Regions from separate parts of the Homo sapiens genome. Here region 1 is linked to region 2. A link means that fine-mapping ties the variant in region 2 to the plasma level of a protein whose gene starts in the linked region. Region 2 holds a variant in brackets. A gene starts in the other region. All regions are shown on their forward strands.

What was found. PIP is the posterior inclusion probability: the model's chance that the variant is causal. Protein levels are from antibody-based Olink assays in UK Biobank. Linkage for the fine-mapping came from a reference panel and not from the study's own genotypes, which makes the PIPs less certain.
Region 1: it holds the start of CNTN1, and the variant in region 2 is fine-mapped to the plasma level of the CNTN1 protein (UK Biobank, PIP 0.99).

The regions. Positions count from the first base shown.
Region 1 is chr12:40,685,321-40,700,786 of GRCh38, forward strand. CNTN1 (contactin 1) reads left to right here and starts at 7,119. Exons shown (of 24, transcript NM_001843.4): 1 at 7,119-7,272.
Region 2 is chr16:453,261-468,726 of GRCh38, forward strand. It overlaps RAB11FIP3 (RAB11 family interacting protein 3), which reads left to right. Exons shown (of 14, transcript NM_014700.4): 2 at 8,144-8,237. Among named protein-coding and RNA genes, the nearest start is that of RAB11FIP3, 35 kb to the left of the region's middle. RefSeq lists enhancers at 12,980-13,609, 13,610-14,238. The variant C/G (reference allele first, on the strand shown) is at 7,200.

The DNA.
Region 1 (15,466 bases), not on the chromosome of region 2:
TCTCGAGAGCCTTAACTTAATCACTACATAGACTGTCACATAAGGTAACACTCACAGATTCCAGGGATTAGGGGAAGAGGGTACAGACTTCTATTTACAATTTTTTAAAGCCTTATTTGGGCTGCTTGGAGTTTGCCCTGTGTTTACAGAGTTTAAGGGTCAGTTTAAGATTTGGATAGAGTTTATATTCTGAACTGGGGACTCTCTTTTTCTGGATGTCTATTTTCTAAGATTCACCTGTCTTACTTCTTTCTTCTGTTGTCATCTAGAGTTCTGTCCACTATTTCTTCAAGACAGAAAGATCGTGCCTTTATTGTTGTTTGAGACTTGGCCATCCTGTTTGGAATCAGCCAGTTTCTGCATTCAAGACCAAAAACTAGATGAAATAGGAAGCTACTTTCTGTCATTTCCTTTTCCCACAAATATTCACTTCTTCAGTTTCTGCCTGCTTTGGACTATTCTACAGTGCCCTCAAGTAGGTGTTCTTCTCTTTTTCCCAGAGTTTATAGTTTTTATCTATAGGGTAGATGGTCAACAGTAGTTACTCCTCTATTACTGAAAGCTGGGCCTGTACATTTTTTTTAAGAGCACATGGGGCATTTACAAAAAAAAAAAATGCAAGTTTTGGTTTATAAACAAAGTCTCAACAAATCACCATAGGTTGCAACCCTTTTAAAGTATTTTTCTGACAAAAGAAATTTAAAATTCTAAAACAAAAAGATAAACTAAAAACCTTAAATGACTATATATAAAACAATGGACTTTTAAATAATCTTTGAGTCACAAAAGAAAAACAAAGATTAAAAAACATTTGGACAACATGCTAAAAAAGACATTAAAATGTGTCAGATATACTAAAGCACTACTTAGAGAAAATATTATAGCCTTAAATGCAAATATTTAAAAAGAGAGAGGGTGAAAAGTCAATGATGTATGTTTCCATCCCAAGAAAAAGAAAAAGAATACCAAATCCAAACTAAGTAGAAAAGGAGGAAGGAAATAATAGAGATAGGAGCTGAAATAAATAAAATTAAAACCAAATATACATTAGAGAAAAATAACAAAGCCAAATTGATATTTGAAATGATGAACAAAATTTCTGAACACTGTGAAAAACAGACAAGAAAATAGCTGACAACTTATCAGTAATCAGGAATAAAATTTAGATTATAAATACAAATCCAATAGACATTAAATATAATAAAGGATATTGTGAACAGTTTTGTTCAAAATATTCAAAATAAGTTTGAATATTTGGATGAAATGGACAAATTCTCTTCTCTGTTCCTTCTCCTTTGCACCTCTGTATTATTGTGTGAGGGTGGGATGTATATTTGGGTAGATGACCTTTTATAAAAGAACTGCTTTATTGTATTAGGGCATTCTTGCATTGCTCTAAAGAAATGCTTGAAACTGGGTAATTTATAAAGAAAAGAGGTTTAATTGGTTCACTGTTCTGCACACTGTACAGGAAACATGGAGCTGGCAGCTACTCGGCTTCTAGAGAAGCCTCAGGCAGTTTACAATCATGGCAGAAGGCGGAGGGGGAGCAGGGATGTCACATGGTAAAAGAAGGAGCAAGAGAGAGAGAGTAGAGGGGAGGTGCCACATGCTTTTAAACAAACAGATCTTGTGTGAACTCAGTGTGAAAGCTCACTTATCACTAAGGGGATGGCCCAAGTCACTCATGAGGGATCTGCTCCCATGATCCAAACACCTCCCACCAGTCTCCACCTCCAACACGAGGGATTACATTTCAACATGAGATTTGGGTGGGGACAAATATTCAAACTATACCATTAGCAAATAGTTTTGAATATGAGTATTGTTTAACTTTGCTCCTCATTTTATGGCATAGTAAACTGAGGTTTACAATTCTTTCCCTATTCTCTTAGCTAGTTATTAGTGGAGAGTTGAGCAAAGGTGTTGTTGTTTAAAAGTTCATGTGTTGAAAATTTAATACCAATGCAACACTGTTGAGGGGTGGGACCTGTAAGACATGATTAGGTCATAGGGCTCTGCCCTCAATGTGTGGACTAGTGCCCTTATGGCAGGAGTGGGTGATTTATAAAAGAGTAAGTTGAGCCTTCTTCCCTCACCCTCCTTTTTTCCCTCTGCCATGGGATGATGCAGCAGAAGGCCCCCACCAGATGTCAGCCCTTTGATGTTAGACTTTCCAGCCTCCAGAATTGTAGGAAATAAATTTCTGTTCTTCATATATTACCCAGTCTCAGGTATTCTGTCATAGCAGCACAAAACAGACTAAGATAAAAGGTCTTCTAACGTCCAGTCTTTCATCCACTTCAGAGGGTGAAGGTATCCATTATTTCAAAGAGCTATTCAGAAAATAGGATTTTCAGTGTCTATAATGAGAGTTGGTAATGAAAGGAAAGGACATATTAATTAAGGTTGAGAGTGGGAGTTCACTAATAATATCTGACTGCTGACTTTCCATGAATAAGGAGACTAAAGCTACAATTTAAACAACTGAATTGAGCATTGGCCACTCCCCATGAGTTGTATGAGTTGAAAGAATTTGAGGACACAGTGGCTATGAACTAAGGAGTAACACATCCTTTTGTTACATTATACATTGATTCCTATTATATAAATGGGGCAACATGAAAGATAAATTAGAGGACTCCATTGTGAAACAATAGATGTGAAGATGTCCTTGCAATATTAGCATGTGTCCTTTTCTGTAAATTTGCTCTTTTGGTGCATAGCAGTTACTGCTAAAGCTAAGAGATTCAAATATTACTCTTAATCCCTAAAAAGATTACAGTGGCTCTGCATGAGTAGCAAGTTGCTGCCGTTTAATATATATGCAGTATTTAGTATTCAAAAACTTTCCCGTCCTGGTCTCCCCACCACGTGGCACTGATAGTGTGTGTGTGTGTGTGTGTGCATGCAAGCTTGGTGCACTGTGCATCCATCCCATTGCCTGGATTCCCAGTTGGCTATGTAAAAGCTAGGTCAGTGAGCTGACGTGATCTCTGAGATGCTGCAGACTGGGTTTAGCATGACTCTCTTTAAACCAGCAGGCAGAACCTTGGTTACCTTTCTGCTGTGGTAATTGCAGCTTAAAATATTAATTGGAAAAGGCCCGTTTTCCTTACTCTCCTGCTTTTTTGCCATATCGAGTATGTTAGAAATTGTTCTGGGAAGCCTGGAGAAGTGAGGAAACGGTGGGCGGAGCAGAGGAGAAAGAAAGGGAGTACATGCTGTGGAAAGCTGCACTGTTGCTGTAGTTTCCTTTCCCTTCACTGAGGTTTAATCACTAGTTGGAGGAAATTGGAATGTTTGAAGAAGGAGGGCCAGTGCAGGGTGGAAAAAGGAGGGGAAGACAGGAGAATTCAATAAGGCCAAGGGCAGTTTAGCAAAGCAATGCCCAGTAAATTGTACTATGGAACTCTGTAAGTGACTAGGGAGTCAGAGCCATCCAGGGCACATGACAAAATTGTCCTACTGTTTCTTTTGAAGATCTGCAGACAGGTTCTATACCAGACTGCCAGATTGGAAGCCTTCAGACTATTGTTTCTATAATTCCCTTCTTCCTAATTTTAGGGACAGAAGTGCCAGCTGGCCATTCATTTTCCAACAGCTTTCTTCATACCTCGACACCAGTCCTGATGACTCTGATCCCATACTCATGAAGCCGACCTCAAACTTACAAGCACGTTGAATCTGAGCTGAATTTATAGTTAAAGTGGCATGCTTTCACATATTTTTATAGACGCTGGAAGATGAGTACACCAGCTGGATCAGTCCTGAAAACATCAAAAGGCTGGATGATACAGGGAGGAAAAAGAGAAGGAACTCTGCTGAAAGAAATACCAAAACTCTTATTGTTCATGTGGTAGAAAAAGTAATGAATGAAGTCTTAAGACCTGGGGTCTAGCTGCAGCTTTCCCCTAACTAGTCACATGACCTTAAGCAAATTCTGTCCCTCCCTCACAGAATAATGAGTGGAATTCAACAATTCTTTCTTTTTCTTTTCTTTTTTTTTTTTTTTTTGAGACAGAGTTTTGCTCCCATTGCTGCCCAGGCTGGAGTGCAATGGTGCCATCTCGGCTTACCGCAACCACCTCCGTCTCCCAGGTTCAAGAGATTCTCCTGCCTCAGCCTCCTGAGTAGCTAGGATTACAGGCATGGGCCAGCATGCCCAGCTAATTTTGTATTTTTAGTAGACACTGGGTTTCTTCATGTTGGTCAGGCTGGTCTCGAACTCCCAACCTCCGATGATCTGCCTGCCTCGGCCTCCCAAAGTGCTGGCATTACAAGGAGTTCAATACTTTCTAAGATCCTTCAAACTTTCATATTTTCAAAACCATATATTTGTCAGCAAATACATATTAGATGTCTGCAATATGCCAAGCATTATATACCCACCTATAATAGTTTACTGCCTTTGTTTTTGAAGGACCACATTTCTCTTTGGTTACTCAATTTCCTCATGGTGAAATGCGACTAATGATGACTCTCCTGCTTATTTTAGAACACAGAGGGAAATTGTATCTGAAAGTGATTTGGAAAATCTAAAATGTTCTGCAGCAGCAGATACCTTTGACATATTCATTTGTATTGTGGGAACATATGTACAGGTTTTTCTCTTTGAGATAATAAGCAATAACCTGAAAATGCTCTGTTTTACTTGAAAATGTGTGAGATGCCTGATCCAGAGAGAAATTATCTTAATACTGTTCCAGAGTTGTGTTTGCATGTACACACAAAGCTGCTAATTAGATCACAGTAAATGCACAAAGTAACATTGTCTGCTTGAAGAATAAAGAATGTGTTCCATGAGAGCTTGCCTATTTTATTCACCATCACATTTATAATAGTAATATTTGTTGAAGGAATGAATGAGTGAAGCAATGAAAGAACGCAGATAGCAGAGATGTCTTTAGTTTTCTTTTCATTACCAATTTCAATTCTTGTGTTGTCTTCAATATTTAGGTATTTTCTTTGATACTTTTTCTTCTCCTCTGATTACCTCTAGAGGAGAGTATGTTGAAGCTCATTTTGACTCAAAATAATTTATGCTTAGGAATCAAAAGATGTTCGTGTTGCAAACACACATTCCTTAGAAATATTACTATTGTAATTGCTTCCTGAGATCATCTTTAATGTGTCCAATACATTATTCTGCTTTAGTTCTGTAGCACCTAACACAGGGTATGGCATTGAAAAAGTACTCAGTAATTCATGAATGATTTGGCCAATCCAATGGAATAACTGGTGTGAGTACCTGGGACAGAGGTGCATGACTAATAGGAGTATTGTGTAAGAAATGACACAGGGGTTCTGAAATTTTGCCACGGCATATTTAGTCATTTCCATTCAGTGTTAAGATGGTTGTCACCACACAAATAATATCTATTTGTTCACTGTAAATTTTCTCCAGGGTCCCTTCCCACCTTCAAATGCATTATTTTATTTTATTTTATTATTTTATTTTATTTTATTTTATTTTATTTTATTTTATTTTATTTTATTTTATTTTATTTTATTTTATTTTTTGAGGCGGAGTCTCGCTCTGTCGCCCAGGCTGGAGTGCGGTGGCGCAATCTCCGCTCACTGCAAACTCCGCCTCCTGGGTTCACGCCATTCTCCTGCCTCAGCTTTCTGAGTAGCTGGGACTGCAGGCGCCCAACACCATGCCCGGCTAATTTTTTGTATTTTTTGTATTTTTTTTTTTTTTTTTTTTTTTGAGTAGAGACGAGGTTTCACCGTGTTAGCCAGGATGGTCTCGATCTCCTGACCTTGTGATCCGCCTGCCTCGCCTGCCAAAGTGCTGGGATTACAGGCATGAGCCACCTCGCCCGGCCCCCACCTTCAAATGCATTAATCGGATTCCTTCAGTATTATGAAGAAAACATTATGAAGAGCCTTACCTGATGATAGTAATAACAACCGTAACCACTAAGTAGAGTCTATATTTATTAATAGCAATGTCATCTTCTCTAACAGTTGTCCAGTGTCCCAAGCCTGTCATAAGCTCTTTGAAGCTCTGTGAGAATGAGAGTTGTGTCTTATGCTCAGCACTTAAGATGGCTACTTAATTCAGATAGAAGAAGAATGTGGCTATTTGCAGGCAGAAGGCAACTTGATTCCTCACATGGTACTATATACTAAGACACCCTACACTCCCAGTTTTACACGTGGTAGTTCTAGCACGTTCCTTCATTTAAGGAGTCTCTTGAATTCCAAAATTTCCAGATTCCACCTGAATAAATGGCAGAGATGGCAACTGGACACAAAGTTATTTTACCCTGTTCCCTTCACATAAAAGGCAGGCTTGGGATCACTTAGGTTTGGGGGCATAAACATCCTCTCAGTGTCTGAGTACTAAAGAAATGATAAACTACTATCAATAGAAAAGTAACAGATCACTTAATTATCAATCAGTCTAATGGTGATTATTTTAAGACTTTTGCCACAAACTGAACTGCCCCAAAGCAAATCTCTCATGCAGTTTGGCCTTAATTTCTTTTACCCTTTTTTTTTTTTTGAGAGGTTATTATGCAGTGCTTTCCCGTTTAAAACACTGTTTCTACCAGGGAATATTAGGGGGTCTTCTGCATTACAGACTAAGCAATTCCGTCTTTTCTCAAGAAAAACTGCCATGTTACATCTGGACAAAAATGGAAACTTTAAAAAAAAACCTCACATCGTTTTATTTTCCTTTCTGTGTGTGTATTTTTTCCCACATAAGTATCTTATTATTTCCTAATCGAAGCTCATTCTTCTCTATGAGGCGCTGGCTTGGTATTTTCGCCTGACAAATCTCCCGGAGCAGATGGTCCCTTCAGGGAAGCTTCAGGAAAGTGCTGGGTGTCTAGTTATGCCTGGACCCTCCCTCCCTCTTGGGGCCCCAAATGACAAGTCATCAAACCAGTTTCTCTCCAGCAAGGGTCCTTGATCCGGTAGCAGCAGGTTTGGGTTTCAGGCACTGCAGAGACCCTTTGCAGTTGGGTTTAGCAGCTACCCAAGTCTGCAGCCTGCGCTGGTCCTGGGGGTGAGAGTGATATCCCTGTTGTCCAATCAGAGAAGCGGGTTTCCCTGTGGTCCCCGCCCCACTTTCCCTGCTGCCCCAATAACCGCCCTAAAAGGCCGGGCTTCTGCTGTCAAGTAGCCAGGGTGGGCTCCGCCGAGGCGAGGAGGGGCGCCGGTGGGGAGATGCGCTCCCAGGTGTTTGCAGCGGAAGTGGGAAACCTGTAGGGTATGGTCCAGCTGTGCCGCACCGAGGCGAGCAGGAGCAGGGAACAGGTAGGAAGCTGGACTTTTCCTTCTTTGCAGATAAAATAAAGAATGCGCATTTCCATGCTGTTGCTTCCCTTCCCCCAGCCCCGCCCAGCCCTCGTCACCCCCAAATCTCCTGTGGTCCCTGCAGCTCTCGCCGTGCGGCGCGGGAAGGACTGGGGCGGAGGTGGCTGGGGTGCGGGGAAGCAGGGGTGCGGGATGCCGGAGCCCTGGGGTGCCGGGCAAGGCAGGACGGCAGTGCCCTAGAAGAGGGCTCCGAGCTCGGGGTCTGTGTCTCGTCAACTTTCCTTTCGGAGGCTGCCGCCGCCAGCGCCGGGAACTCGCCCCAGGGATGCCATATCGCCTCGGCAGGGGAGGGGTGGGGAAGCAGAGAGGTCGGCAGCCCGGGGCCTGCAGGTCTTTTTCTCCCGACGCCGGCCCGCACCTGCTCATCTTTCCCATCCCACCTGGGCGCCTGGCTAGCGCATCCCGGAAAACCTGGGAGCGGTTGCGGAGAGGGGAGGAAGCGACTTGTTTGTCCCCTGACCCCTCTGTTAAGATCTAGCTCCCTTCAGGAGATGGGGGTGGGGAAGAATCCCTGCAACTCGAAGGGCACGTTCCGATTAATTACGTCTCCGTTGAGAAGGCACCGGCCCTTCTCCACGATCTGCGGCAGGTGGGAGGGAGAGACCGCGGAGCCACGGCCCCTTCCCTCCTAGCCTGGCGCTGTCTACGGGAACCACCTTCACACCTAGTTTCTGAAAGGTGGATTTGGCTTCAGGGATTTCCAGGGAGTCAAGTGATTGTGCCCGGATGGGCTCCGAGCGGCTGCGAGGCTGCCTCCCTAGGTGACCGCATCTGGGTAGTAGGTGTTGGCCCAGTGCCGGTTCCTGCAGGAGTCAGATTGCTGGGAGCAGTAGGCAGAAGAATTGCAGAGAGATCCGACGCTGCATCACCCTCTGGGACTGATGACACCCTGCTTTGAAAATTCCTGAAAAATTGGGATGATGGGAAAGAGGGAAAGCGGATAGCTGCGACCTTTCCTTATTTATTTATTTATTTTCATGCCAAACCGGGCATGGGTATTCGTACGTGTGCTTGTGTGTGCACATCTCCAAGGTGGAGCTATATATAGCTCCTGCATACCCAGCCCGGCTTCCCTGCTGCTGAGCCGGCTGCCTTGGCCTTCTCAAGCAATCTGGAAGCACTGAGTGGGCGGGGCAAAAGGGAATCCAATTCTCCATTGGGGGAAAAGCCGGAGAAGAAGCATTCAGACTGCTGAAACCCTGCGTGAAATAATGTTTTTGTAACTCACGTAAAGATCAATATTTCATATTTCATGTTTTCAATATGTCATATTTCATGTTTTCAATATTTCAGTATTTTGCAAACATTCTTAGAGTGCCAATATAATCTTCATCCATTTCGCCGCATTTTTCGGTTTCTAAGTGTACATATGAACCTTACCAGCCCGAAGTGTAACGCAAATCAAATTAATACATGCCGTATCTGGGATATTTTATTAGACTCGGCATAATGGTTTGGTTATTTGGTAGTAAATTTATTTCAGTGGTAACTTATGGCTAACAGCATTTGGGGATCTGGGAATGGATCCACCCACTTTCCAGGACTAAGGAACTGCTAGAACCCTTGCGGGGGTAGATGTGAGGTATTTCTTTGTACAGATTTTACATGTGGACCTGATATTTAAATTTGTACTGCTTTTTCATATCACATCTATTTGTACTATGTGAACTTTCTTTTATAGATTGATGTATGTGCATTTATCTTTGCCATTCCCTGAAATTACTTATTCCTGATGACAACCTTTCCATTTTCACAGATGAAGAAACTAAGATTCAGAAGACACAAGTGATTGGTTGAAAGTCTTCTGAAAACTTTAATATTCCAACAACCTGCCGTGTAATTATACTGCATAGCAGTTTCCCCTCAAATAGAATACTTTTTAGCTTCCCAGGATTTTTGGTCCTGGCAACAAAATGTGGTTAATGTTGATACCAGGAACAATATAAACCAAGTTTATTCGGTTCTAGTCTGACATGTATCCCTACAAAATTTAATTCTGTGTTTTAAGAACAAAATTCTAACTTGCCAAGTCATTTTGAAGATAAATTATTTAATCTACCAAGTTACCATCATAGGCAGTGCGAGCTGGCTTTTAATTTTGCTCTGCAACTTCCTGATGATCTGATTTGGAGCAAGATAATTAAACTCTGAGAATCTGTTTTCTTGTCTTCAAAAGGAATTTTATAGCATTGAAATTTCAGGTTGCTATGAGGGCCATAAAAAGCATGCATGTTTCTATCATGGGGATGGGCGCATAGTGGGTCATTAATAAACAGGGCTACTGGTAATAATAACAATACATAGGTATGTATCAACTAAATGCATTTTAAAATTCATGGTTCTAACAAAACGATCACTCCTCTTCAGAATCTCTAGTAGACTATTTTCACTTGGGAACTTAATCATACTTAGTCTTATTTTGTTGCTTAATCCTCATTTGTATGTCTGATTTGTTTTCTAATTAGGAAGTACTTTGCAGAAAAAGACTACACTTATAATCTTTTTGTATACCCCACCACATTGAACACAGTCCTATAATAAGTAGCCTTAAAGATTCTTGTTCAGGAAGCATCATCCTAAGAAGCTGGATGGGTGCAGCAATGATTTGGGGATATTTTTTTGGTAGAAGGCTATGCCTTGGGAGGAAACTTCCTCTGGCTTTATGATCCTCTCCATGAGGAGTAATGGATGACATAAGGTGTTTCTATATCTTTTCATAGAATGACTCGGTTCTACAGTAGGGATTATGACTATGTACTGGTTCTATGTATTCTCTTGTATCTTGTGTCCCTTGAGACCAACTAGGAAGAGCTGAAATAGACAATTTATATTTCTGTATACAAAATATGTCCTGTAATTGCCTTATTTCAAAAAAAATCAACAAATTCTCCAATTTCCATCTATTTCTACATGTAAATTGGCCATGGTCTCTATCATATCCCACAACTTATTCTAACTCACCAGTAAGCTCCTCCTCAATTCCAATGTTTGTTTTCTTTTTATTGATGTATTATCGATTGTTCTCTTCTGACCTTCTATTTTCCATATTGTCCATCTTCTTGAAATTTTGCTCCTTGACACCACAATGCTCTGATAGCGTACTTTTTTCTTAATTTTTCTAACTTTCCTTTCTTTGTCTCCCTCTTATCTTCTCTTTCTACTTCTAGCTTTCAAGCAAATCCCCCAAATTGATGACAATTTATCTTATTGAAAATAAAGTTCTCCTTCTGCATTTCCATTCCTAATCTCCCTCCCATTAGCCATTTCCTTTACACTTACCCTATCGGCTAAGAGCACAGGCTTTGGGAGGAAGCCTGCAGGTGTTAATATTTATGTATCATGATGCAGTTAAGCGAACATCAGCAAGTCAACTGGGGATTATCATAGCACTTACGTGAGAGGATTTTGTGATTTGTAAAATATTAAGTGAGATAATGCGTGTTAAACATTCAAAATAAGGTTTGGCCCATGGTAATTACTCATAAAGAATAGCTATTAATAATAGAAGTGCTATTGTAGCAATTGTAATGCACAAGGTGAAAACTGGTTTTGCTTTTTCCCCATCAATAGGCATCATTCCTAAACTGGCTTTTATCAATGGAGACTACAACTTTACAGGCTTTCTGGCTTGTGGTTAGTTACTTTTTAAGACTTTCTTTCCTCTAGTCCAAGTGTTCACCATATAGTCAGTAATTGATTCATTTTTATTTTCAACTCTAATTTGTATCTTTCTCTGCTTATTCCAGCACTAGTTTCTTCTGGCACTCCATGCCTGGATGAGTCCAGTAGGCAAGTTATCAAAACTTCCAATTTATAAGTCTATCTGCTTTAATCTAAGATGCCATGTATTATTGGTATAATGTGTTTTCAATTTTCATTAGTGCTTCTACTTTCCTTTGAAACTTTCACTGTACTTTAGTTCGTATCTTAAAAAGCACTGATTTTGGAGCAGGAGACTCAGGTTCAACTCCTGACAACAGGACTGATCCGTTGTGTGACCTTGGAAATGTAGCAGCAGGAGGATGGGGCATTATTTCACTTCAATAATATGAATGACCAACTGTGTAAAGTTACACTCAAAAGTCTATCTATTTAATATTCAATTGAAAATAATATCTTATTATTATAAGGACATCTAAAATCATTAAAGAAATACTGGGAATAAAGAAAAATCCACCAAATTCCGCAGTACAAAGAGATCCTATTTCAATCTTCTAGTCTTATTTCTATTAATATAAATAGGTATTTTTCAATTATAGATTTGAGTTTACAGTGAACATTCACTTTTGTATTTAGCTTTTTAAACTTAATATACCATAAACATTTATTCATTTCATTTAATATTCTTACTATCCATGTGTTTTTTGGCTGTCAATATTCTATGATAGATCTTCAGATTGTTTTCAGTTTTGCATCGTCAAGAACATGAACCTTTGTATACATTAATATTTGCATTTCTGACCATTTCCTTATGACACCTTAGAAGTTACCCAGGCAAAAGTGTAAATATTTTTAGCCTCATAACACTTACTGCCAAATTGCTTCCCCCAAAATGTAAGCACAGATTTATTCTCTACCAGTGGTTGTACCAGTTTGGCCATACTCTCATTAACACTTGATATTATTTTTAAAAATTGGGATCATTTTGATAGTACAAATTGTGTATCTAGTTATTCTTCTGAGTTATTGTTCCTATGATTTTGGATGAGTTCAAAAATGTTATATTTATAGGTTCTTTGTATTTTTTAATTTGTGAATTTCATTTGACTCTTTATTGGAGTGTTCATATTTTCTTCATGTAATAGGAAATCTGAGGTATACTGCAAAAATTGTCTGCATCTTGTTCTTTGCATTTTAAAAAATGCTTTCTAACACACAGAAATGTATAGCTTTACTGTAGTTTATAAATCTATTTGCAGTAGTGTCTCTTTGTAGCTTTCAGGTTCAGAAAACTTTCTACCACTTAACGGAGAATTGAATATAAAAACAACATGTGACGGTGCTATTGCTGAACTTCTTTCCTCCTTTGAAGCAGAATCTGGCTTATGTATATCATATGTATATCCCAGTGCGAAATGGCTCTGGGGACACATAAAATCCACTCAGTCTATTAAGATCCTATTATTCTTTAGGCAGCTCTCCCATGAAGTGAATAGTACCTTAATTCTTTCTGAGCTACTATTGTCCATTTTAAAAGAGCCACAGGGCAGAATGCACTATGGAAGATATTAATGGCCAGGTTACTCAGCCAGAGCAGGGCACATTGTTTGCACAATTATCTGAATGACTCAGGCACTAAATCTGCTTCTGCCAGGATTATCCAGATGGTCCTTAACTCAGTAGATAATTTTTCACTCCTGTACTTGATTTTGATGGTGTAGACCTGAGCATGTCACCACTTTTCCTGCACTGTCTTGTTACTACTCAATTTGCTTAGGGCTGGTTGCTTTAGTTTCTTTTATGAGAGGCAGGTTTGCCCGGTTCTCCAGAGCATAGGTGTTAAGAGTTATGCAGAGCTTTGCATGAAACCTAGCTCAGTCAGTTACTAGCAGCGTGCTTTGAGGCCAGCCACTTAATTTTTTTTTTTTTTTTTTTTTTTTTTTTACGGAGTCTCGCTCTGTCGCCCAGGCTGGAGTGCAGTGGCGTGATCTCAGCTCACTGCAAGCTCCGCCTCCTGGGTTCACATTATTTTCCTGCCTCAGCCTCCCGAGTAGCTGGGACTACAGGTGCCCATCACTACGCCCAGTTAATTTTTTTGTATTTTTAGTAGAGATGGGGTTTCACCGTGTTAGCGAGGATGGTCTTGATCTCCTGACCTTGTGATCCGCCCGCCTCGGCCTCCCAAAGTGCTGAGATTACAGGCGTGAGCCACCATGACCGGCCATGAGACCAGCCACTTAAATTTTTTTACAACATTGTTTTCTGTGTAAGAAACATATTCAGAGTTTGAAGTCCCTATTTCATTCTCCTCCCTCATAGTCGCCTTCTTCTAAGTACATTCTATATGTCATAACCACAGTTGTCTTTCTAAAACCAATTTCATCGTATTCTTCCTCTGCTGAAAATTTTTTGAGTTAGTTCCCCTTTTTTTGTATTAGTAAGATGTCTGAAGTCTTTTGCATTGCACCTAAAGTCCTTTATTAAATGGTACGTGGTAACTTCTCTAGATTCATTTTCTGATTAATCAAATTTCTTCCATCTCCAATCTCCCGTAATGTCAATCAACTGAACGGTTTGCCTTCTCCTAATGCATCTTGTTTCCTCTTTTCTCGCAACACCCTCCCATGTTCCCCATGTTCTATTCTCTACTATAAATAACCTGTTTTCTTGTCTGCTTTTTAACTGACCTAACCTTTTCATGCCTTGGGTCAGGTGCCACCATTTCTTGGAGGACTTCCCCTGAATTCCCAGTCTTAAATTTTGACTCCCTGTGGATATCCCTGCCGTGTCACTTACCATACTATATTGTACTGATTGGTTACTTGTCTCTTGCCTCCACCGTAAGTCCTTGAGGATAGACACCATATGTTATTTTTCTTTGTGTCTGATAGAGGACCTGACATAGAGTTGATACTTAATAAATATTTTCTGAAGAAATGAATAAAAGAAGGTTAAGACTAAATTAGTTTTTAGGATTTCAACAAATGAAGGATTCATATCTTTACCCTGGAAACCAATCAATAAAAGCTAAAAATTATGTCAATCTTCACAATATTTCAAAAATTAACTTCCTGGTTTTGTTGATTTATACAGAGTAAATAAAAGAGAGTTTTTTTTTAATGAGGAATTTTGTAATGAAAAGCATGCCTAGGACAGCCAATAATTCCAAATTGCTAAATCAGTCAATAAATATCTTTTAAATAATTCTGCATTTTAAAAGGAAAGAGGAATGCATAGTTACATGGATAATGTCGATGTATAAATTTAGCTGTGTTGGAATTAAATAATGGCAAAGTTAATTTCACTTTTCTTTATTTAATAAAAGGTCTTCCATTGGTGTCATCTTTGGTAGATTACAAAGCATGGTCACATGCATAGCCTTATTTGATCCTTCGTAACAGTTTTGAAAGTTAGATTCAAAGGCATGGTTATCCACATTTACAGATAAAAAAAAAAAGCTCAGAGAAGTAACTAATTTGCCCAAGGTTACACGTTAGTGGCAAATCTGGACAAGTAAGATGATCTTGCTCATAGTTGAGTGTCCCATGTGTTATGGTTGGCCCAGAACATTTCACTGAGAGATGACTGCCATGATTTTGTCTAGGTTAAGGACAACAATCTTGATAATAATAATCCCCTGAAAGTCCTGAGCAATCTAGTAAAAATGTATTGCATTATTACCTATATAGGGTTTTTACTTAGATTTTTAGTAATCTGAGAAGAAACCAGCTGACAGAACTTTTTGCTTTAAACATATTTTAAAGTCTTATATTTAGTTACTTGATCATTTAGAACACACACACATACACACACACACCATATTACCCTTTCTTTTGTTTGTTTTGAAGTATTTGCCTTTTATATTAGGTGACAAGTACAATGCTCTTTCCCTTACTTTTTTTTTAAAACTTGAATTATTAAAATATTTTTTTCAGCCAGGCATGGTGGCTCACGCCTGTAATCCCAGCACTTTGGGAGGACGAGGCGGGCAGATCATGAGGTCAGGAGTTTGAGACCAGCCTGGCCAACATGGTGAAACCCCATCTCTATTAAAAATACAAAAATTAGCTGGGCATGGTGGCACATGCCTATAATCCCAGCTACTCAGGAGGCTGAGGGAGGAGAATCATTTGAACCCGGGAGGCAGAGGTTGCAGGGAGCTGAGATCATGCCATTGCACTCCAGCCTGGGTGACAGGGTGAGACTCTGTCTCAAAATAAAAAAAAAAATAAAAAATAAACTGGATTTTCTTTGTTTAGTAGACAATGTTCAACTTTAGTCTTCAGGTTTTGGCTTAGCATATATTCTGTGTAATCTTGGAGAACCAGATAGGTCAAATGCATTTTTTAGGAAATAGCACAAGTGATGAAAAAGAAATTTATGAAAAACAGATGGGTACTTAGTAAGAATGGCAATCTATCCTAGTTTGAAAATTACAAACACCGAGATATAAGATTGATTTTTAAAAATTGAC
Region 2 (15,466 bases):
AGACAGGGTTTCTCCGTGTTAGCCAGGATGGTCTCAATCTCCTGACTTCGTGATCCACTCGCCTTGGCCTCCCAAAGTGTTGGGATTACAGGTGTGAGCCACCATGCCCGGCCTGGCCACATCTATTTCTGATGGATAAAAGTGGATTCCTGAATATGTGATATGCCTCTCTGGGGACCTGTGGAATGACATTTTGCATGTCAGACCAGCACAGTGCTTTTATTCTAGACTTTTCTAAACCTTCCCCTCTAAACCAGGGAAAGCGAGTCGGTTCCCCGGTTCCTCATCATGGGTAATCAGAACAGATCTCTGATTTAGGAAGTTGGTTTTTTTTTTTTTTTTTTTTTGAAGCAGAGTTTTGCTCTTGTTGCCCAGGCTGGAGTGCAGTGGCGCGATCTTGGCTCACTGCAACCTCTGCCCCCTGGGTTCAAGCGATTCTTCTGCCTCAGCCTCCCCAGTAGCTGGGATTACAGGCGCCTGCCACCACGCCCAGCTAATTTTGTATTTTTTTTTAAGTAGAGGCGGGGTTTCACCATGTTAGCCAGGCTGGTCTCGAACTCCAGAGCTCAGGCAATCTGCTCACCTCGGCCTTTCAAAGTTCTGGGATTACAGACGTGAGCCACCACACCCGGCCAAGGAAGCTATTTTTGTACTTCAAACAGAAAAACTGAGCTGCCAGTGAGCACATTTCAGAGTAGGAAAACTCATATTATTCAGCCTACCTGTCTTTCTTCCAAATTTCAATTTAGAGATAAACACACCGTAGCTTTTAAGTTGCCAAGAAAAGAGACATGAGATGTACTCAAATGCCTTCATTTTCCCAGTAGGACCTCATCATTCCAGGTGGTTGAAGCATCCAGTAGGCGGGTCTTTGTTCCTTGCTCACACACCCAGTTAAAAGCAAAGGCCTCCCCTCATCTAGAGCCAACTCTGAGCAGGGTCGTTAAGCATCAACTGCCAAGCATAACCCCCTATAAAGTTGCTTGCTATAGTAGTTGGTGCAAAGCTGACTAAATGGGAATTAAAAACTGTCTCTAGCCAGGCACAGTGGCTCATCCCTGTAGTTCCAGCTACTCTGGAGGTCAGTTGGAGGATTGCTGGAGTCCAGGAGTTTGAGACCAGCCTGAGCAACATAGCGAGATCGCCTCCCTACAAAAAATACAAAAATTAGCTGGGTTTGGTGACACTCACCTCTAGTCCCAGCTACTCAGGAGGCTGAGGCAAGAGGATTGGCCGAGTCTAGTCGTTCACATCTAGCGTGGGAAACATGTTGTAGACCTCATCTCATATTGTATACCTCCTCAAAACCAAAACCAAAAAACCCCAAAAGCAAAAACCAAAAAAACCCACAAAACCAACCATGAAAACACCCCTGTCTCTGGAACTCCTTGTCCAAGGTCCCTGAGGCTAATGTGATTTGGAACAGAAGCCAACTTTCCTGCAGGTTTAGAAAGTGTCACATACAGGCTCTTTCTCATTCAAGCGTATAAGAACAGGCTTTCTTGGCCGGGCGCAGTGGCTCACACCTGTAATCCCAGTACTTTGGAAGGCTGAGGCAGTAGGCAGATCACCTGAGGTCAGGAGTTCCAGACCAGCTTGGCTAACATGGCAAAACGACGTCTCTACTAAAAATTCAAAAGTTAGCGAGGCGTGGTGGTACGTGCCTGTAATCCCAGTTACTTGGGAGGCTGAGGCACGAGAATTGCTTGAACCCGGGAGGTGGAGGTTGCAGTGAGCCGAGATTGCACTACTGCACTCCAGCCTGGGTGACAGAGCGAAACTCCGTCTCAAAAAAAAAAACAAAAAAACTAGGCTTTCTTTCTTTTTTTTTTTTTTCTTGGCCACATGCACCAGATTGAAGAATAAGCTTTCTTGTCTGTTCTCTATACAGTGATATGTAAAAATCACCACTCAGATCAAAGAATTGAGAACTGCGCAGCCAGGCGCCATGGCTCACGCCGGTAATCCCAGCACTTTGGGAGGCCAAGGTGGGCGGATCACCTGAGGTCAGGAGTTCAAGACCAGCCTGGCCAACATGGCGAAACCCCGTCTCTACTACAAAAATCAGCCGGGCGTGGTGGCACGTGCCTGTCATGCCATCTACAAAGGAGGCTGAGGCAGGAGAATTGCTTGAACCCGGGAGGTGGAGGCTGCAGTGAGCTGAGATCACACCACTGCACTCCAGCCTGGGTAACAGAGGCGACTCTGTCTCAAAAAAAAAAAAAAAAGAATTGAGAACCGCGCACACTCTCACAAGCACTCAGCAGTGGTCAGTCCATTCTTGGGTGGGTGATCGGATATGACTGGAGCAGGTGCTCCCTGTCACTGTTTTTGTTGTTGTTGTTGTTTTTTGGGAGATAGGGTCTCACTCTGTCGCCCACGTGGAATGCAGTGACGCAATCATGGCTCGCTGCAGCCTCAACCTCCCAGGCTCAGGCAATCCTCCCACCTCAGCCTTCCAAGTAGCTGGAACTACTGGCACGTGGACCGACGAATTTTTTGGAATTTTTTGTAGAGATGAGGTTTCACCATGTTGCCCAGGCTAGTCTGGAACTCTTGGGCTCAAGTGATCCATCCGCCTTGGCATTTCAAAATGCTGGAAAGCCAGGTGTGAGCCATTATGCCTGGCCTTAGTTTGGTTCAGGCTTTATACTAAGTGCATCTCAAATATTTTATTGAACATCCTTTCATTTCTAAGAGTACTTCAGTTATCTCTGTTAAAATGAACCAACCAGAAAGATTCCCACTCAAGTGCAGGACAACAGATATTAGTATCAAGAATTAAGGCCGGGCACGGTGGCTCGCTCACACCTGTAACCCCAGCACTTTGGGAGGCCAAGGCGGATGGATCACCTGAGGTCAGGAGTTCAAGACCAGCCTGGCCAACATGGTGAAACCCCATCTGTAAGGTGGGCTGAGTGGCTCACACCTGTAATTCCAGCACTTTGGGAGGCCAAGGTGGGCGGATCACTTGAAGTCAGGAGTTCGAGACCAGCCTGGGCAACATGGCAAAACATTGTCTCTACCAAAAATACAAAAATGAGCCGGGTGTGGCGGCACACACAGCTACTTGGGAGGCTGAGGTGGGAGAATCGCTTGAACCTGGGAGGCAGAGGTTGCAGTGAGTTGAGATTGTGCCACTGCACCCTAGCCTGAGTGACAGAGTGAGACCCTGTCTCAAAAAAAAAAAAAGAAAAAGAAAAAGAAAAACAAGGCTGGGCACGGTGGCTCATGCCTGTAATCCCAGCAATTTGGGAGGCCGAGGTGGGCAGATCACTTGGGGTCAGGAGTTCAAGACCAGCCTGCCCAACATGGTGAAACCCTGTCTCTACTAAAAATACTAAAAAATTGATTGGGCATGGTGGAAGGTAGCTGTAATCGCAACTACTTGGGAGGCTGAGGCAGGAGAATCATCCAAACCAGAAGGCGGAGGTTGTAGTGAGCTGAGGCCGCACCACTGCACTCCATCCTGGGCGACGGAGTGAGACTCCATCTCAACAACAAACAAAAAAACCAACAAAAAAACAACAACAAATCAAAACAAAACGAGCACTTGTTGGGAACAGCAGGGAAAGCCCTTTGTGTATATGTTTAGCTGCTTCGCGTCTGCTTTTAGAAAGAAGTGTCCGTGCCATCGGCAGGTGAGCCGCAGGCTTCAGTGCCATTGGGAGATACTGTATAGCCAGGCTTCCAGAGCCGCCTCTCTCCCTGCCCACGCTGGCCCATGTGCTGATCTAGTGTGAAGTTTACAGATAGCTTCGGGAACTCCTAGGAACATTTTGCTTATTATTGCTGTGGTTTCTGATAAGATAAGCTTTGTTGAAAACAGTATAATTCAAGTATGATAGTAACAACAAGATGCAGAAAGGCGGTTTCTCGTTCTGAAAGGTGCTTTGCTGTGAAGCCATAATACAGTGTGTTATTCGAGAATCCTGGGAGGAGTCTCTGGGATCCTAGTTGACTGTGGTGGGAGAACTTGTTCTGCTTTCCTTTCTTTCAGATTAGTGGATCATGTTTCTACATCCATAGTAGGAACAATGCAATTTGTCAGTAAGTTTTTCATACTGCAGTCACCCTGGAGCCAGTGACTGAGTGGATTCTCCACCATGGTGTTTCTGTAACTTATTGTCCGTCTGCTGGAGCGGTGCTGGCTGGCTTTGGCCACTCTGGTTTATGTCTCTTGGCTCGGTTTTCTGCCACTACTGGATTTTGCAGGGAAGGGCAGGCTGTCTCATTTTTCACAGTTTCACCTTTTTTTTTTTTTTTGAAAGCCTCTGAATTGAGTATTTTGGACTTGGAGAATTAGAACTATCCCCAAATCATCAATTACATGAAATCCATCTGTTCTACAGATTATAAAGAAAATATAATTAAAATGGAGTTTTAAAAATGTATACTTTGATTCACTCTTGTTCATTCTAACATGGTAACATGTAAAAGGGGCCTATTCTAGTTAATGATTTGTTTAAAAAATATTTGGTTAATGTTTCAGAATAAACAACTTGGTACTTTGTGTTCAATTAGTAGCTTCAGTGTGGAAATTCTTAGGAATCTTCAGGACAGATTGGCCAGTCTGGACTCCGGATTAGGTAACTCTCAGGTACCCAGCAAGACTCTCACATTCTTAGGAATGAGCTTAGGAATGAGGACTTTTGTGAGATAAGTGGGGAGATGTTTTATAAACTCCAGTTGTCTCCAGGAAGTTGGTTGATGATGGACTTCCGAGGCTAGAGTCACGCTAGCACACAGAGCCCTAGGATTGGGGCGATGGCCCCGGCCTCTTCCGTTGTGAAGGGGAAGCGGAAACTCAGTCTCTGGCTCAGGAATTCCACACTGTGGGGTCCCTTAGCTGGGGCTGGCCCTGTTTGAGCCTGACTTTATGAGGCATGTTGGCTGACAGTGGCGAGAGGGCCAGCCACGGGGGCCCGGGCCTTGCTCTGGTGCCCTGTGTGCTTCGGGCTCTCTGGATTGCCTCCTGGGCGATGCTATAGCCTTGCTGACCACGTGCTACACCCCCCATCCTTTTCCTGAAACAGAGCAGCTGTGTCCTGGCATCTCCAGCAGGGCTGCCCTTGAGGGTTCTGTGCTTGCTGCTTGGTAGCAGCCCCGGCATCTGGACTTCACCACAGGGCCTAGGGGGCCTTCCTCGGGTTCACCGATGCCCACAGGGCCTGGGGGGCCTTCCTCGGGTTCACCGATGCCCACAGGGCCTGGGGGGCCTTCCTCGGGTTCACCGATGCCCACAGGGCCTGGGGGGCCTTCCTCGGGTTCACCGATGCCCACAGGGCCTGGGGGGCCTTCCTCGGGTTCACCGATGCCCACAGGGCCTGGGGGGCCTTCCTCGGGTTCACCGATGCTCATCTGCCGTAACCTGCCTGAGGCCCTAGGGTTTTGTCAGTTAATGGATGTGGCTACAGCCAGGGCTCCTGCCAGCCTGTTGCCTCTCCCTGTCCCTGAGCATTTTCACAGTCCAGCCCGCCACCCAAGAGGGGCTTTCTTCAGGAGTCTGCCCCCTCTGTGGCTGAATGCTGCCTCCTTTTTCCTTTCTCCCTGGCCCACACTTCTTTCTTCTTTGCTCTCTTTTTCTCTTTTGCTGTTCTTGAAGTTTTCATTATGGAAGAGTTCAAACCCATATGAAAGTGGAGAGTAGTGAAATGGTGCACTGGTACCCATCCCCAGTCACAGCAACGTGCAGGCATGCCTCTGGTGACATCTGTGCCTCACCCCAGATTCTAGAGGTATTTCTAAGTATTTCAGTACATGTGTCTAAAAAGCAGTGCTCTTTAAAAAATTATGAAAATGTCATCACACCTACAAAAATGAACAGTTCCTTAATATCATCAAATATTTATCAGTGTTCAAACTTTTTTTTTTTTTTTTTTTGAGACAGAGTTTCGCTGTTTTTGCCCAGGCTGGAGTGCAGTGGCACGATCTCAGCTCACTACAACCTCCACCTCCCGGATTCAAGCAATTCTCCCGCCTCAGCCTCCCGAGTAGCTGGGGTTACAGGTTCCCACCACCACGCCCAGCTAATTTTGTATTTTTAGTAGAGATGGGGTTTCTCCACGTTGGTGAGGCTGGTCTCGAACTCCGGACCTCAGGTGATCCGCCTGCTTCAGCCTCCCAAAGTGCTGGGATTATAGGCGTGAACCACCACACCCAGCTTCAAACTTTTTTTTTTTTTTTTTTTTTAGCAGACAAATTCTCATTTTGTAGCCCAGGCTGGAGTGCAGTGGCACAATCTTGGCTCACTGCAACCTCCGCCTCCCGGGTTCAAGCGATTCTCCAGCTTCAGCCTCCTGAGTAGCTGGGATTACAGGCGAGCGCCACCACACCTGGTTAATTTTTGTATTTTTAGTAGAGATGGGGTTTTGCCATGTTGGCCAGGCTGGTCTGGAACCCCTGACCTTCGGTGATCCCATCTCAGCCTCTCAAAGTGCTGGGAATACAGGCGTGAGCCACAAGGCACCTGGCTGCAATGTGGTTTTAATTTAATTTGCATTTCTTTAAGGACTAATTGAGCATTTTTTCATGTGGTTATCAACCATTCACACATATTTTCTGATGAAATTTCTATTTAAGTTTTTTGCCCACTTAAAAAAAAATTGAGTTGTCTTTTTTTTTTTTTTTTTTTTGAGACAGAGTCTCATTCAATCACCTAGGCTGGAGTGCAATGGCGCAATCTCTGCTCACGGCAACTTCTGCCTTCCGGGTTTAAGCAATTTACCTGTCTCAGCCTCCTGAGTAGCTGGGATTACAGGCATGCGCCACCACGCCTGGCTGATTTTGTATTTTTAGTAGAGATGGGGTTTCTCCACGTTGGTCAGGATGATCTGGAACTCCCAGCCTCAGGTGATCCACTCACCTCGGTTTCTCACAGTGCTGGGGATTACAGGTGTGAGCCACCGCACCTGGCCTGAGTTGTCTTCTTAATTATAAGATTTCCTTATATATTCTGGACACAAGTCATTTAACAGATATATGATTTGCAAATACTTTCTCCCAGTCAGTGTCATTTTTTTGCTTTTATTAATGTCTTTTGAGTATGAAAGTTTTAAATTTTTATTTTTAAGTTTTGGGGTACATGTGTAGGATGTACAGGTTTGTTACATAGGCAAACGTGTGCCATGGTGATTTGCTGCACCTGTCAGCCCATCAGCTGAGTATTAAGCCCAGGTATTTTCTGTAATACTCTCCCC[C/G]CTCCCACCCCATCCCCTGAAAATTTTTAAATTTTTATGAAATCCAATTTACACTTGGCAGAATAAACCTGCATTCTTTCTGAAGAGTTTCATTTTGTGTTACGTCCATGTGTGAGTCACCCTACTTAGCGTTTATGATTTTTGATATCAAGGGTCTTTTTCCCTGAGTTATTCGCTACCAAGGACTCTGCAGAGCCAGGAAGGCATTTCTGAATGGGCGGTGTGTGCTTATCTATGTTATCTATGTAACATATCTATGTTGGCATGCTGGATCCTTGCCGGAACAATACCTAAAACTTCAGAACTGATCTCCCCACGTAAGACCCTGGCTGCTGGCGTTCAGTGGCCAGGGTCCTACTCCTGTGGTTCATCACGCCAGGTGCTGCTGGCAGCCCATTTACAGGGTGCTGCCTGTCCTGTGGCTGTGACCGTCTGCAGTGGCCCATGGAGGCCGTGCTGCCTCCTGCACGTGAGGAGTCAGAGGCTGTCACTGTCAGCACCGCCCCTGTTGGCGGCTTCTTTGCATGTGGTGAAAAAGCCAAGCTCGCGATACAGCCTAATCCCGATTCCCTAAAGCGGCCCGCAGCCTTCTTGGCACCAGGGATTGGTTTCATAGAAGACGCCTTTCCACAGACGGGCAGGGCGTTGGGGTGGTTTCAGGATGATACTGTTCAGATCATCCGGCGTTAGAGTCTCATAAGGAGCGCGCAACCTGGACCCCTCGCATGCGGAGCACACAGTAGGCTTTGCGCTCCTGTGAGAAGAACCTGATGCTCCTGCTGATCTGACAGGAGGGGAGCTCAGGCGGTAATGCTCCCTCACCTCCTGCTGTGCTTCCCCGTTCCCAGCAGGCCACACACCAGATCTCTCCCAGTCCGAGGTCCAGGGTTGGGGACCCCTGCTGTAAAGGCTTAGGGTAACCTAGTCTCATTTGGCAATTACAGGTGAAGGACTTAACTAAGTACTTGGATCCCAGTGGGCTCGGCGTGATCAGCTTTGAAGACTTCTACCAAGGGATCACAGCCATCAGAAACGGAGGTCAGTCATCCCCGCCATGAGCTCCCACCTCCTCTCCCGTTCCTCAGCCACCCTCTCAGCCACCTGCACATCACCAGGCTCCTCGTGCTGACTCTAACATCTTTCCTTCTCCTTGAAGCCCCCAACATACCCCAGGTTTCCAGGTGGTCTCTTTCCTTTCTTGTTACCTTCTCCTCACATACCCTGTTTTCCAGAATTTGCTGCGTTAACTACTTTTCCATAATGCTAGAAAGCAACTGCCCCCTTCCTCAAAGATTTCATGATGACAATTTGAGAATTTTCAAAATATTGAAAGAATGATTCCATGGCCACCCAAGTGGGTGTTCATCACCCGTGCTCTGCAGGCAGCACTTCGTCGCACTCTCTCCCCACGTCTCTGTCCATCTCCAGTCTGTCCCCCAGCCCCTCTTGAATGGGATGTGTTTGTAATCAGCATGCTTCCGCGCACACCGCCCTGAACACTGCAGCCCGTACCACCATCGTTCCCTAGAGCTCAGTGTTTGTTTCCAGTCTTCCTTTGAGTAAAAATTTACCTGCAGTGAAATGTACAGCTCACACCTGCTCCTCTGTGAGCTCCGACAGAGTCCTGTGCCTGGCAGTGCGGAGCCTGTCACGCACATCACTGTCCCCATGTGGGTGCCGCATACCCCTCGCCCTCAGGCAGTGCCTTCCCTCCTGCTGGCACCATTGCTGATTTCTGTCACCATGGATTAGTTTTGCCTATCTCTCTTTTTTTTCTTTGAGACTGAGTTTCACTCTTGTCACCCAGGCTGGAGTGCAATGGCCCGATCTCGGCTTACTGCAACCTCCACCTTCCGGGTTCAAGCGATTCTCCTGCCTGAGCTGGGATTATAGGCACCCACCACCATGCTCACCTCTACTAAAAATACAAAACATATAAAAATTTTTGTATTTTTAGTAGAGACGGGGTTTCACCATGTTGGCGGGGCTGGTCTTGAACTCCTGACCTCAGGTGATCCGCCTGCCTCAGCCTCCCAAGGCTGAGGTGCTGGGATTACAGGCATGAACCACCGTGCCTGGCCAGTTTCACCTGTCTTGAGGGTTCGCGTGCTCTCACTTGGCTTCTTTCCTCAGCACGATCCCTTCCCCAGCACGATCCCTTCCCCAGCACCATCCCTTCCCCAGCACCATCCCTTCCGCAGCACCGTCCCTTCCCCGGCACCGTCCCTTCCCCAGTCCCCCGGCACCGTCCCTTCCCCAGTCCCTTCCCCAGCACCATCCCTTCCCCAGCACCGCACCATCCCTTCCCCAGCACCGTCCCTTCCCCAGCACCATCCCTTCCCCAGCACCGTCCCTTCCCCAGCACGATCCCTTCCCCAGCACCATCCCTTCCCCAGCACCATCCCTTCCTCAGCACAATGTCTTCCCCAGCACAATGTCTTCCCCAGCACCATCCCTTTCCCAGCACGATCCGTTGCGTGCTTGTGCCGTATTTCGTTTCTTCATTCTCCTGGTGATGGGCACGTTTGTGTACAACTCTTTGTGTGGATGCGTGTCTTCAAGTCCTTGGGGCCTGTATCTAGGAGTGGGTCATGTGCTGGGGTAAACTCGGTTCTTCACAGTGGCCGTGCCTTTTCACACTCTCACCAGTCCCCATACTATACACTGTCCGTCTTACGTCAAGTTCTGAAGCTCTGAACAGGCCATCTCACTTCCTCATGTTTGGCCAGGCGGTGTAGGGGTGACGGTGGCGGGTCCTTTCCCTCCTTCATGCACGTGCAGGATAAGTAGACCTTGGCTGGGGCCCTCAGAGTCAGCAGGTGCAGTGAGGGAGACGGATGCCCTTGGACCTCGACCTCAGGTCTTGTCTGTCTCCTCCACAGAATTATTGCCTGACAGTGTCTCTAAGGGTTTTCTCAGATGCCAAGTCTTTAGATGGCTCTGGGGAAACGTGCTGTGTGTTGTTCCCCGGTTTTTTTTTTTTTTTTTTTTTTTTTGAGACAGAGTTTTGCTCTTGTTGCCCAAGCTGAAGTGCAATGGCATGATTTCGTCTCACTGCAACCTCCGCCTCTCGGGTTCAAGCGATTCTCCTGCCTCAGCCTCCCGAGTACCTGGGATTACAGGCATGTGCCATTGCGCCCAGCTAATTTTGTATTTTTAGTAGAGACAGGGTTTCTCCGTTTTGGCCAGGCTGGTCTCGAACTCCTGACCTCAGGTGATCCACCCACCTTGGCCTCCCAAAGTGCTGGGGTTACAGACATGAGCCACTGCGCCCGGCCTGTTCCCCATTTGTTACTCTTTATTTGACTGTCTGTTCTTCCACCCATGAACATGTTGTGGGACCAGCACGGCCTCTGCGCTGGGCTTGGCCCCGGGGCCTCTGTGGTGAACCAGCACCAGAGCAAGGCCAGCGGGCTGCGGCAGGACAAATGGGTGAGGTGCTGCTGCTGTCAGCGTAGCAGGCCGGGGGTGAGATGGGAACTAGGCAGGCAGCCCTCTCTGAGGAGGGGTGGAGGGGAGAAAGGACACCCTGACAACCAGGTAAAGACCATCTGGCCCAGGTGAGGAAGCAGTCCTGAGGTGGGGCGAGGGGCCCAGGACGAGGATGGAGAGATACTGCAGGCTCTGCAGGCTGAGAGGAGCGTGCAGGCAAGCTCTGGGTCAAGGGGGCCTGCAGAGCAATGGGCAGAGTGGGTGGCCACAGACCCTCAGGAGGCAGCATTGGCAGGAGAAGGGGGAGGAAGAGGACAGTCAGGAGGCCTCAGAGTCTGCAGGCTGAGCACCAGCAGGTTGAGGCTGATGGGGCCGTGTCTCAGTCTAACTGATAAGCTGCAACCCTTAAGTAACATCTTAAGAGGATAGGTGTGTACTTTATACATTTATTTAACGTTTGTCCTTCTGTACAAAGCTTTCAGTAGCGGCTTTGTGAGAATTTTGGCGTCTCACATACTGTGCCTTGAGGCTTGCTGCATGGCGTGCTGCAGGTCCTCCCTCCAGGCCTTCTGGAAAGTCTGGTTCTCCTCAGGTTACTCCTGGGACATGGCAGCTGTGCCCATGACCCTCGGGATGAGTTTGTTCTCTAACTGATTCACCGGTTAGCTCTGGGGAGATTCTAGGTGTAAATTTTTTCCTCTTAGTTTGAAAAATCCATTATGGGCCAGGCACAGTGGCTCATACCTGTAATCCCAGCACTTTGGGAGACTGAGGTGAGAGGATCAGTTGATCCCAGGAGGGTGAGACCAGCCTGGGCAACATAGTGAGACCTTGGCTGTGCAAAAAAATAAAGTAGTTGAGCATTGTGGCGTATGCCTGTAGTCCCAGCTACTTGGGAGGTTGAGGTGGGAGCATCCCAGGAGGTGGAGGCTGCAGTGAGCTGTGTTTGTGCCACTGCACTCCATGCACTCCAGCCTGGTGACAGACCCTGTCTCAAAAACAAACAAAACAAAAAAAACTTGCCATTAATTCCAAACAGAATTTTGTGTGTAATAGAGAATGCGATCTTTATGACACTGATGCTTTGGTACTTGCTGGGCCGGCTGGGTGGTTTTTATGCATGTGATGGGTACGCCTGAGAGGATGCTTCTTTTCTAATCATTGGTCCCCTGAGTTCATGGAGGTGCGAGCTGGAGACTCACGTTAGCTTGGTCTCAGTCGCAGGGAGGAGAAAAGCCGCTCATGAAGCTGGTAGCTGTGTCGTTTTTGTTTTGTATAGCTGTGTTTCGTCTTCACTCTTAAGTCAAGAATTACTGGATGCAGGCTTCTAGGTTGATGGTGAGGGAGCCCGGGGACCCCCAGAACTGGTTGTCATCGGAGAGGCCTCAGTGTTTGGGGCTGAGATGGGTGCATGGAGGCCAAGCACAAGACCCCAGGAGGCAGTTACCACTTCCATGAAAAACAAGAAGTGGAATAAGACAGCCTGTACTTCTTGGTCCAGTAACAAGCCATATTTTACATAGCCATAATAGTTAAATTGAATATTGATGTAACTGAAGATGGCGATGTAACCATTTTGGAAGATTGGAGGAGGGAAAATGGGGCAGGGTGCAGTGTGGCAGGGCATCTCATGGGGACTGTTTGGCAAAACAGAGGGAAGTAGATGCGAGCTTAGAGGGGAGTGTGGGCGGCCTGTCAGTAGCCACGGCCTCTCAGCACTGGCTCCTTTTTCTTTTGAGATGGAGTCTCGCTCTGTCGGCCAGGCTAGAGTGCAGTGGTGTGATCTCGGCTCACTGCAACTTGCGTCTCCCAGGTTCAAGCGATTCTCCTGCCTCAGCCTCCCGAGTAGCTGAGACCACAGGCTCGCGCTGCCACACCTGGCCAATTTTTTGTGTTAGAGATGGGGTTTTGCCATGTTGGCCAGGCTGGTCGTGAACTCCTGACCTCAGGTGATCCACCCACCTCGGCCTCCCAAAGTGCTGGGATTACAGACGTGAGCCACCGCGCCCGGCCAGCAGTGGTTCATTTTCTAGTGACAGGCACGTGTATGAAATCACAGGGAACAGGACTGTAACTCCACGCATTTTGAATAAAACCAGGAATTCTTTGTTGTGACTGCTGGTCTTGTTATAAATGTTACAACCCATTTCCTCGGTGCCACAAAGACTCAGAGCACTCAGGGCCCTGGCCAGTCACTGGCTGTGCTGGTCTCGGCTTGTCATAGGGTAAACTTGCTCTGCACAATGTGGCTGGCAGAGCGTGTTCCTGGGCCTGTGACTGAGGGCAGCCTGCAGGAGATTTGGGCTGGAGATGTGTTCCCTCGGGAGTCAGGGACACAGCCTGTCATGGAGAGTTAAGACGGGTCTTTTGTAGGTTTGGACAGGTGAAGTGCTCAGATCCCTCTGCAGGGTCAAGGCTGGGAACAGCAGTGGCCCCGGGTACCATGACATGGGCAGGAGGGAGCCACCTGGGTCCACGATTCTGTCGTCAGGGTAGGGGTTGGTTTGTTCCTGTGGACCATGGCTAACGTGAAATGGGGCAAGCTCAGCTCTAGGGGTTCCTGGGAGGCCTTGGCTTGGAAGGTGCCCACTCTCAGCTCAGGAGTCAGGGTGTGGGAGATGCCCACCAAGCAAAATGAAGCCTCTAGCCTGGCCTGCTGCCCTCGGAGGAGCCCGATGCTCTGTCTGGGAAGCCTGGGGGCTGCCAGCTGTGGACTGTGGCTGCCTGTGGTTGCCGGTGTCTTGGCTTAGTGACTGAAGGGGTGAGAGAGTGATCGTCCAAGGACAGCCCATCTCCAGATGTTTCTTAGTGGTTGCCCAGCCACCTGACACGCCAAGCTGGGGCCTTCTCCCAGACACCGTCCCCTTCTCTCTTTGCTGTCACCTGGGCCAATCCCACAGCAGCTGGGGCACCCCGTTCTCCTTCCCAGCAGCTGACAGATGGGCCTGGGAGGGCTCCTGCGCCTGTCTGCTTGAGAGGGCGGTGAGCTAGTCATCGTGAGCCGGCCAGGGCTCTCCTATCTCACTGCATTAGAGCTTGAGCCAGGCTGGTGGAGGTGGCTGCAGCCGAGGGAGAGCACGGCTGGCACCTGTGAGGACCATGGATGGGGACACATGGGGCAACGGGCCCGTGAGTGCTGTCGAACCAGCCTGTTCCAGGCTCTGGGACGTAGCACGAAACGGCAGTGCAGAACCCCTGCCCTTGGGAGCTGGCTTTCTAGTGGGAGACAGACCACAAAGTAAGGCAGGAGCTAGGGAGGCAGAGGAGTGGGGAGGCCTCCCTGAGAACGTCTGGGATGGGAAGGCAGCATCCCAGCAGGGCTGCACCTGGCATGTTTGGAGGCCACAGGGAGGCAGGGTCAGAAGGAGCAGGTGAGAGGCAGGCCTCACAATTCTGTCTCCAGCTCCAGGCTCCTGAAGAGGATGGTGGGGCATCCCTGAGAGCTGGTGTGAGGGGTGGGACACTGAGCTGACTGCAGAGCTGACTGCAGAGTGGAGTGGGCGTCAGGGAGGAGGTGCAGTAGCCTCAGGGAGGAGGTGCTGGGACGTCAGGGAGGAGGTGCAGGGGCCTCAGGGAGGAGGTGCTGGGACGTCAGGGAGGAGGTGCAGGGGCGTCAGGGAGGAGGTGCGGGGGCGTCAGGGAGGAGGTGCAGGGGCCTCAGGGAGGAGGTGCTGGGACGTCAGGGAGGAGGTGCTGGGGCCTCAGGGAGGAGGTGCTGGGGCGTCAGGGAGGAGGTGCTGGGGCCTCAGGGAGGAGGTGCTGGGGCCTCAGGGAGGAGGTGCAGGGGCGTCAGGGAGGAGGTGCAGGGGCGTCAGGGAGGAGGTGCTGGGGCCTCAGGGAGGAGGTGCAGGGGCCTCAGGGAGGAGGTGCAGGGGCGTCAGGGAGGAGGTGCTGGGGCCTCAGGGAGGAGGTGCTGGGACGTCAGGGAGGAGGTGCAGGGGCCTCAGGGAGGAGGTGCTGGGGCCTCAGGGAGGAGGTGCTGGGACGTCAGGGAGGAGGTGCAGGGGCCTCAGGGAGGAGGTGCAGGGGCGTCAGGGAGGAGGTGCAGGGGCGTCAGGGAGGAGGTGCTGGGGCGTCAGGGAGGAGGTGCTGGGGCCTCAGGGAGGAGGTGCAGGGGCGTTGGAGGAGGTGCAGGGAAGTCAGGGAGGAGGTGCAGGGGCGTTGGAGGAGGTGCAGGGAAGTGAGGGAGGAGGTGCAGGGGCGTCAGGGAGGAGGTGCTGGGGCCTCAGGGAGGAGGTGCAGGGGCCTCAGGGAGGAGGTGCAGGGGCCTCAGGGAGGAGGTGCAGGGGCGTCAGGGAGGAGGTGCAGGGAAGTCAGGGAGGAGGTGCTGGGGCGTCAGGGAGGAGGTGCTGGGGCGTCAGGGAGGAGGTGCAGGGAAGTCAGGGAGGAGGTGCAGGGGCGTCAGGGAGGAGGAGGTCCTGGGGCGTCAGGGAGGCGGTGCTGCCATGGCATTGGACACATGGCCTCTGGGGCTGCGGGGTCTGCTTTACTTTTGAGTAATTTGATGTCATGATTTATGTTTCGTTCGGAAGGAGAGTGAAACTAGAATAAAACGAAGTCGAAGATGATTTTGGAATTATTTCATAGCATTTAGAAGAAAGGAAAATGTGATCATCCAAACCGCACTTCAGCCAAAGTTCACTTCAGGTGTTAGCTCCATCGTGGCTGCAGCAGCCTGTGTTGTCTGTCAGCCCTGTCTGCGTCGAGGAGTGACCAGCAGGATGTGCTGGCCTAGTTTGCTGGGAAGCACAAGGAGGCTTTCCTGTCACAGCCACAGGCCTTGTTTCAGGAATAGAATGAGATAGAGAGGGATTGTTCCAAATAGGCCATTGCTG